2 separate regions of the Homo sapiens genome follow, and region 1 is linked to region 2. The links come from fine-mapping of genetic effects on gene expression. A gene starts in region 2. The other region holds a variant in brackets. All regions are shown on one strand. Distances are between the middles of the regions.

Region 1 (4,390 bases), 130 kb after region 2:
AATATTGGGTAGGAAAGCAATAAATTCTCAAGGCATTTTCACCAGTTAAAGTTTAAACCATTAGATATTTGGGGTTGTTCAAGACATTGAAGTTCTTATGTGTTGGTGAAGTTCTGTGAATATCTAGTGAGTCCCTATCAACTGTGAGATACATTCTAAGTCATTGATTATTAATGACAAGATGCTATCATTTGCAAATGATAAACCTAAAATATGGTACAGCAGATTATCTCCATGATAATATTTTGCTCACGTGCATTCTGAAAACAGTGTCAGCACAGAGGCTCTGAGACCAGATTATCTGGGTTTGAATCCCAGTGCTGCCACTTACTAGCTGTGTGACCTTGAAGTTACTTAAACTCTGTGTGCCTCAGTTTCCTCATATGTAAGGTAAAGATCATAATATCTTATAGGTTGCTGTGGAGATTAAATTAGTCAAATACATGTAATGTACTTAGGTACTAGGCACATAGTAAGTGTTCAATAAATGTGACCGTAGTTGGGGTGGAATTACAGGTGGGCACTTGGAAAATATGCATAATGCAAGTCAGTTTTATCTGTTGCAGTGTGAAATCTGGGCACCTTTTTGAGAGTATAGGATGCATGTAAACATTGCTGCCCAGTCACGGTGGGAATGGCAGCTGGGATGGGAGGAAGTTGAGAACATTGTTACACAACATGTACTGTTATTTAAACAAATAACAATCTTAGAAAAATAAAGAAGATACGGGGAAGAAAATTTTTGTTCACTGTTCATTTTTACAGTTTGAAAGCAACTGCCACGAGCATTCGAAGGCCAATAGGGACAGAGCAAATCCTCGTTTCTAAATATGGGAGCCTGGGTTTGCTGGCTGGAGCTCCAGGATTAACATTCCACCGCCCTGGACCCTTACTCAATTCCTCCTTCCACGGTTCTTTGCTAAACCTGAGACCAGATGGGTAGCAGGCCATTAAAGTACAGCAGAAAGTCATTTTTCTGAAGTCTGAGACTTGATCTATCTGCATAACAATATTTTCAGAGTTTATATTTATTAACTCTAAAAGAGCAATGTGACTTTAAAATATGTTTGTAGCAGTTGTTTCTTGCCTAAATAATCTTTCACTGTGTAATGAGTGCGTGTGTGGGATGCAGGACTTAACTAATTCCTCAGGCTAACTGACCATGTCTTTTACTAACAGACAAGAATGACAAAACCTTGGATTGTGTCTGTTTCTCCATCAGCCAGTGTAAAGTGGCACATAGGCTTTACTTCAGAAGGGGTGTGCAATCTTCCCTGGGCCACACTGGAAGGAGAAGAATTGCCTTTGGGCCATGCGTAAAATACACTAGTGATAGCTGATGAGTTTTTAAAAAATTGCAAAAAAATCTTATAATGTTTTAAGAGGGTTTACGAATTTGTGTTAGTCCACGTTCAAAGATGTCCTGGGCCATATGCGGCCCATGAGCAGTGGGCTGGACAAACTTGCTTTCTGCTTCTGCGTTATATTAAACTTGCAAGGCCTTTCTGTTTGCAATTAATGGAAAATATTGTCATGAATACTCAATAGGTGGTCTTCATTTTTAGAAACCTTTATACATTACCTATAATACAGTAACTTATTTTGTTGAATTAATTCACATTTTTTAATTTTCACAGGTTGAAAACAAGGATATTTCTTCCTTGCAAAGCAAAATTAAAATGTTTGTAAAAGATCTGGCCTAGATGCAGTTTTTATAGGCTTAAACGTTTGAGTAGTTAACAAATTCCTTTCAGGTTATTAGTTCTAATGAGGTACCACTGACAGCTTTTTGATGGGTCAGTGCTGTTAAATGCTTTTGGGTTTTTTGTTGTTGTTTGTTTGAGACAGAGTCTCACTCTTGTCACCCAGGCTGGAGTGTAGT[TG/G]GTGCAATCTTGGCTCACAGCAACCTCCACCTCCCAGGTTTAAGCAATCTTCCTACTTCAGCCTCCTGAGTAGCTGGGATTACGGGCACGAGCCACCATGACCGGCTCAGTTTTATATTTTTTGTAGTGATGGGGTTTGGCCATGTTGCCTAGGCTGATCTCAAACTCCTGAGCTCAAGCAATCTGCCTGCTTTGGCCTCCCAAATTGCAGGGATGAGCTACCACACCTGGCCTTGAGTAGTTTTTTTAAAAGTTACCTTTAACTCAGATTTGTTAATCTGCTGAAGTCCAGGCATTAACGATGTGAGTTCCAGGTGCTTGTGTTGGTTCATGATTGTTTGACAAATCATTGCCAGAGTTTTAGGTATACAGTACAAACAATCTCATGTATCTACATTCAGTACTCAACCTTGTTCTTTTAAGGAATGTGTCCTGATAACCTGCTTGTGCTTCATGCACAGTACAGCAATGTACTGAGGTGCTACATATACAAATTACTATTTTCTTTTTTTTTTTGAGATGGAGTTTCGCTCTTGTTGCCCAGGCTGGAGTGCAATGGCGCAATCTTGGCTTACCGCAACCTCCGCCTCCCAGGTTCAAGTGATTCTCCTGCCTCAGCCTCCCTAGTAGCTGGGATTACAGGCATGTGCCACCACTCCCAGCTAATTTTGTATTTTTAGTAGAGACAGGGTTTCTCCATGTTGGTCAGGCTGGTCTCAATCTCCCAACCTCAGGTGATCCGCCCGCCTCGGCCTCCCAAAGTGCCGGGATTACAGGCATGAGCCACCGCGCCCAGCCACAAATTACTGTTTTTTTTTATACGAAGCTTAGATGAGAAGCTTTACACTTGTGTTTAGAATGAGTGTAAATAATCTCATGGCATATAATTCACATGGAACAAAGGACTGGCTTCTTAAAACTTAAAAACAGGAAAAACAAGTTTCACACTCCCACAAATAATAAATGTTTAACCAGAGAATATCTTTGGATTTCAGTGACATTTATGAATGTAGGTACAGTAATGTGCTTTTAAAATAACTATTTTCTTTCTAAATCTTGTTACAAGGATTTTTTTTTTTTTTTTGAGAGTGTGTTTCACTCTGTTGCCCAGGCTAGAGTGCAGTGGCATGATCATAGCTCACTACAGTCTCGACCTCCTGGGCTCAAGTGGTCCTCCTGCCTCAGCCTCCCAGTAGCTGGGACTACAGGCAACATACCACTATGCCTGGCTAATTAAAAAAATATTTCTTTTTGTAGAGACAGGGTCTCACTGTGTTGCCCAGGCTGGTTTTGAACTCCTGGGCTCAAGCAGTCATCTTACCTCGGCCTCTCAAAGTGCCAGGATTACAGCTGTGAGCCACTGCAGTGGATGGATATTTTAAAAAATTCTGTTGTTCAAAACTCTTCACTCTCAAACATGTATCTGACACCCACAGTCAGTCTGTTACTCTTGTTCCCTGTGAAATGTCTGCTTGTTAACCTGAGAGTCCAAAGAACAGGAGAGGCATAGTTTGGCTGGTAGGAACAATATTCCCAGTTAGCCCTGGAAGACAGTTCCAGTTCAGTTCTAAATCCAATCGCCTTCCCTTTATGCTCCCAAGCTTTATGAGAAAACAGCTCACTTGATTACCACCTAATCTACCTGTATGTCCTTGGGCAAGTTAAACTCTGCATGTTACTTTCCCTTTCTGTAAAATGAGAATATCTACTGGCTAACATTGTGGTGATGGTTAAACTAGATAATGTATGGAGACCATACTTAAGAAAGCAGTCTCCTCAGCTTAAGCCAAAACTGTTTGTTCTGAGAATCCAGACTGGTAAACTCTTGCAAACTAGAGAGGTGTACAAGAAACCATCCCAAGTAAATGACACATAAGTGGTCCAGGAAAAACAATCCTCAGTTGTTAGGAAGGATTCCAAGTTTAGCAGTGTGCCTGTTGTTTACCGTTACGTTCCAACCAGACATCTTCACCATGTCTTTTAGACCCTACCTTTGTCATAGGAAGAGAGAGGCCATAGGGGAAAATAATTGAGAGGTTACTCTTATCAAAAAAAAAAAAAAAAAAAAAAGTCCCGTAAGGCTTTAATGAGGCATGGGGCATCACTGGTTTGATACTTCCCAGCAGAATGCAATACCAAAAGCAAAAACAAAGAAATAGTCCCCTTTCAAAAACACGAAAGTCCCAAAGCAGCAGACTAGTGCAGGCCACAGAGGGCAGGAACAGAACTTAGCAAAGAAGTTCACTGAGACTCTGCAAAATACTGTAAAGTGGACAGCAAATGAAATATGGCTTGTTGCTGTTAGAGTTTCTCCACAGTTAACCCAAAACTGAGGACCTATGTGTAAAGAGTCTGGAACAACGCCTGACATAAAAGATCCTCAACAGTGGGGAGGGAGAGCATCAGGATAAATAGCTTAATGCATGCTGGACTTAATACCTAGGTGATGGGTTGATGGGTGCAGCAAACCACCATGACACATGTTTACCTATGTAACAAACCTGCAC
Region 2 (4,390 bases):
TTATCTGGTGATTTTTTTTGCCCTTTTTTTTTTTTTTTTTTTTTTTTTTTAAAGAGACAGGGTCTTACTGTGTTGCCCAGGCTGGTCTTCAACTCCTGGCCTCAAGCTATGCTTCTACCTCGGCCACTGGAGTTGTTGGGATTACAGGCATGTACCACCATGCCCGGCTCATACATTTATAAAAATTGAATTTATCGGTCTTTTAGATCTTGTGTCATAGTGAAAGTGTCTTTTTCCGTTCTGAGGTTATAAATGAATCATTGTATGGTTTTATTGTTTACATTTAAATCTTTGACATATCTGGAGTTTTTGCTAGTGTATTGTATAGGGTATGGATCCAACATTTTTTCTAGATAGCCCATTTGTCTGAATGAGAAACTTTTTTTTTTTTGAGACGGAGTCTTGCTCTTGTTGCCCAGGCTAGAGTGCAATGGCGTGATCTAGCTCACCACAACCTCCACCTTCCGTGTTCAAGCGATTCTCCTGACTCAGCCTCCCGTGTAGCTAAGAATTACAGGCATGCGCCACCTTGCCCAGCTAGTTTTGTTATTTTTAGTAGAGAGGGGGTTTTTCCATGTTGGTCAGGCTGGTCTCAAACTCCCGACCTCAGGTGATCCACCCGCCTCGGCCTCCCAAAGTGCTGGAATTGCAGGTGTGAGCCACCTCGCCCGGCCCTGAATGGGAAACTTTTTACTGCTGTCATTCTTGGACTATCCTCCACATGCACGTGGATCATATTTCTGTTTGCTCAGCCCAGACATCAGAACTCAGATGCCTGTAGAGACTAGGCAAGTTACATAAAAGGGTGAAGAGTGCCAGGTGGGAAGTATAGCCAACTGGAAATGGATGGCATATTTTTATAAAGAGGGCAGCCACTACCCGGTGCCTGCTGATTACTCTCTTGCACGAATGCAGTAGGTCCCAGTGTTGCCAGATCTTTGTCAAGAGAAGCTGAAAATATACATTTTTATATGAAGCCTCTTGATTTTAAAATGTTAACAATTAAATTTAAATACAGCCTTAGCTAAACAAAATATGTCTTCAGGCCTGACTTGGCCCAGAAAAGCCTTCTGATATTCCTAGCCAAGAATGAGATTTCTAACAAGTTTACTCTCCTATGAGTAAAGAGAACATACATGGTCTAGTAGTTTGACATCACAGTAGTTTATAGCTGGAGTCTGGGAACAGGAGAGAAAAGTAAGGACCCTCTATATAAGCCAAAGTCTTCGCTCTCACAGACTGAAACATTAATGGGAGAAATACAAGCATTTTACCATCCCACCTTTTATCCCAAGTACATGTGAATGGATATGGCCATTTATTAGAGGATGTTCTTGATTTAGTGGATACTTTAGTGGATTAGAAAAATAATCTTATTTTCCAACTCTGCCATTCTGATTTTGCCCAAATGAAAAAGTGGTGCATGTTTTGGGGAGAATAATTGCTCAGCTACTGATGCCGGAACTGAATTGTAGTACTGACTTATTTTTTGTACCCTGTTCGTCTTTTCCCTTTCTCACTGCTGGTGGCTAGGGACAGGGAGTAAAATATCTTCTTTACAACCTGTTAAAAGTAATGTGCTCAGCCTCTTTAGTGGGATGAAATTTGTGGTAATGAGTTACCAGAGCCTATGCCTCTTTGGATTGAAAAGCTTGTCAGGATCTTTTCTGGGTTGCTAATGAGTGTTTCCTAGACGCCGATCCAGGTTTTGTAGGACCTGAAGCCTACACAATTTGGATGACACGATTAAGAAAACAATTCGAAAATATCTTGAAAGTTTTGTAAAAACGATATGATTTTGTGAACGCACAGGGGCCCGTGCAAGTGAAGGACCTTTCAATTCAAGCTTGATCAACGTCACTGTCATCTGCCCCTTCTGACCCTACCACCAGGCTAAGGGCTTTCCACGCCTCATCTCTCGGTCCCCACACCATCACCCTAAGAAATAGTTACTGTATCTCCTAACGATATATTATATATAGTACCTACTTTGTGTAAACATACGGTACTCATGAAAACAAGCCACGTAGAGCACAAATACGTTAAATATCCTGTCCAGCCCGAATGCCCCTTTCTCTCCACGTCCCTATGCAGCCTCCCACGACGGTAGTCCTGGGGCTCCAGCGCTACAAGAGTGGCACCGAGTCCGGATTGTCTTAAGCAGGTCGAGAGGAGGGAGCATATGGGTAAAAAGCAGTCAAACTGAAGAGTCTGGAGCGGCCCCCAGCACAGTCTCGGGAAAAGCGGACTCCCCCGGGGCCCCAGGCCCCGCACCCCCGCGCCGGGCTGGCGCCTGTGCCTGCTCCGCGGCGCGCATGCTCCGTGTTAGGCCTCTTGGGCTATTCGGGATAATGAGCGCCGGGCCGAGGGGGCGGGCCGAGCCTCGGCTGCTGGGACTCAGGGCTCAGCGGCGACCCCAAGGCACTCTGCGCTGCTGCTAAAGGGGCAGCAACGGCGGCCAGCGCTGTGCGCGCCATAGCGAGGCTCGCTCGCCCGACGCGCACTCCGGGTCGGTCCCCAGAGCTCTGTGGAGGTGACTCGAGTGGGCAGGGCCGGGCGGCGCTGTCGGCTGGGAGGGCGGGGAGGAGGCGATGAGGAGACGAGCAGCCGCCGCCGCCGCCGCCGCTGCTCACCGCCCGCCGCGGCCGTAGCGGGAGTCGGGGCGGGGCTGGGCCAGCTGTACCCCTGACGGGCCGCGAACCCAGACAAAGGAGGAGGAGCCGCCCCAGAAGCGGGCCAGCGCCGCCGGGAAAGGAGGTCGCCGCCCGGGGTCGCCCGGGCTTGCGGGTCGCCGCGCTTCCTCTGCGGGCGCTGCGGGAGGCGAGGGCCGCCTCGGCGGAGGAAGCCGACCCCGGGGTCTCCGCCAGCCCGCCGGCGCCGCCTCCGAGCCGCCTCGGCCGTAGCCTCGGCCCGGGCGGGAGGCGGCGGCCGCCGGCGAGGCGAGGCGGCCCGCGCCCTGCCTGTCAGGCCACCGGCCCGGCCCGCGGGCTGCCCCCGATGCGGAGGCGCTGTCGCCGGGGCCATGCAGCAGGCGCCGCAGCCTTACGAGTTCTTCAGCGAGGAGAACAGTCCGAAATGGCGGGGACTGTTGGTCTCGGCCCTGCGGAAGGTCAGTGCTAGGGGCGGGGCGGCCGGCGGGTGGCCCGTGGCCCCCCGAGCTTCTAACGGGGAGCAGGTCGTCCCTCCCACAGGGCTCGAGTCCCCGGGGCCGAGCCGTTTCTCGTTGGCTGGCAATGGGGGGCTCACAATTGCCTGTTGCATTCTGAAGGACGTTTCTCAAGTTTTTTTTTTTTGCCTGGTCCCGGAAGGAAGGTTTTGTTATGATCATAAAACTGGATTTCATGTTGCAGTCATTTCGTCAGGCAACTTCCGCCGTTGACCAATTTGTTGTCCTCAGGCTGGAATCGGGCAAGAGAAAGTCCCGCTGGTATTTAGACAGTTTCTAAAACAAAAGCACATTTTCAGGCCGGGTAATTACTTTTAATTAAGTTCTTTGGGAGTGTTCCCCCTAGGCGGTTTGCTTGTCAAGGGTATCCACTTATGAGGCAATGGTTTTTTGTAATATGGATGTTTCACATGTGTGAAATGTCAGTGAGTCATAATATTCTTATTCATTTTACAGTTCTCAAGGTAAATTTAAAGCGCCTTCCCACTTCCTGCAAACGGTGTCTTACCTGTTTACAAGAGATTACCCTTAGAAAATTTGGTCAGTGTCTTCAGTGTCTTCACGACCAAATTGCGATTTAGGACTTGAAATCATTTTAAGGAACAAGAAAGGGGCAACTCCTGCAAATCAGTCTTTCATGTTTGGGTGCATTGCTAGGGTGCATCTTTCCTGTAGATGGTGGCGGTCTTCCTCTGTGAATTTAGGTAGTAACCATACGATCATTTTTATAATAAATCCTTCTGTAAGATCAAGACATTTAAAGACTGTGAATAGGTGCGTGATCAGCTGTCATGCCTGTTGAGCAGGGGCTTTCTTTCTTTGCCGTTAATGCAGACTTAGTCTCTTCTGCCTTTTGTGCAAAATAACCAAGAATACATTCTAAAATAAGGAAAAAATAAAGATTAATTTAAAAGACTATACTTGGAAAATATATCCTCAGACATTAAATTTCTATAAATGAAAGGAAGTAGTGTATTTTAAAGTTAAAGACATTTTCCTCATGCGATGAGAGTTGCAGATTTTCCCTTATTTTCATAATTCTTACAAGGAAGTATTGCTTTCCTCAGGGCAAACACTAAGTCGTATCTTTTTAAAGAACCTGGCAGAAATGACTAGTGGCAGCTAGACAGTTATTCCATTGGTATACCAAGTGCTAAAGTATTAAATTGACCTTACTTCCATGTGCAGCCCAATTCTGTAAGGAGAGGGAAAGAAATGAAAAGT

Direction of the effects. Positions count from the first base shown, and alleles are read on the strand shown. Sizes are in standard deviations (SD) of each study's normalised expression.
For the expression in whole blood of the gene that starts at base 2,728 in region 2, allele TG in region 1 goes with a higher level than allele G (small effect, 0.09 SD a copy in GTEx).

What was found. PIP is the estimated chance that this variant, and not a neighbour inherited with it, causes the effect.
Region 1: its variant is the best candidate, but not a certain one, in a credible set for the expression of SOS2 in whole blood (GTEx, PIP 0.69).

Annotation. Positions count from the first base shown.
Region 1 is chr14:50,100,019-50,104,408 of GRCh38, reverse strand. The region is part of intron 1 of LINC01599 (long intergenic non-protein coding RNA 1599); the gene reads left to right. It also overlaps a transcript of VCPKMT not described here. Among named protein-coding and RNA genes, the nearest start is that of LINC01599, 2.8 kb to the left of the region's middle. The variant TG/G (reference allele first, on the strand shown) is at 1,883.
Region 2 is chr14:50,229,916-50,234,305 of GRCh38, reverse strand. It overlaps SOS2 (SOS Ras/Rho guanine nucleotide exchange factor 2), which reads left to right and starts at 2,728. Exons shown (of 23, transcript NM_006939.4): 1 at 2,728-3,109. The coding sequence starts at 3,023. RefSeq lists an enhancer at 1,817-1,906 and a silencer at 2,057-3,136.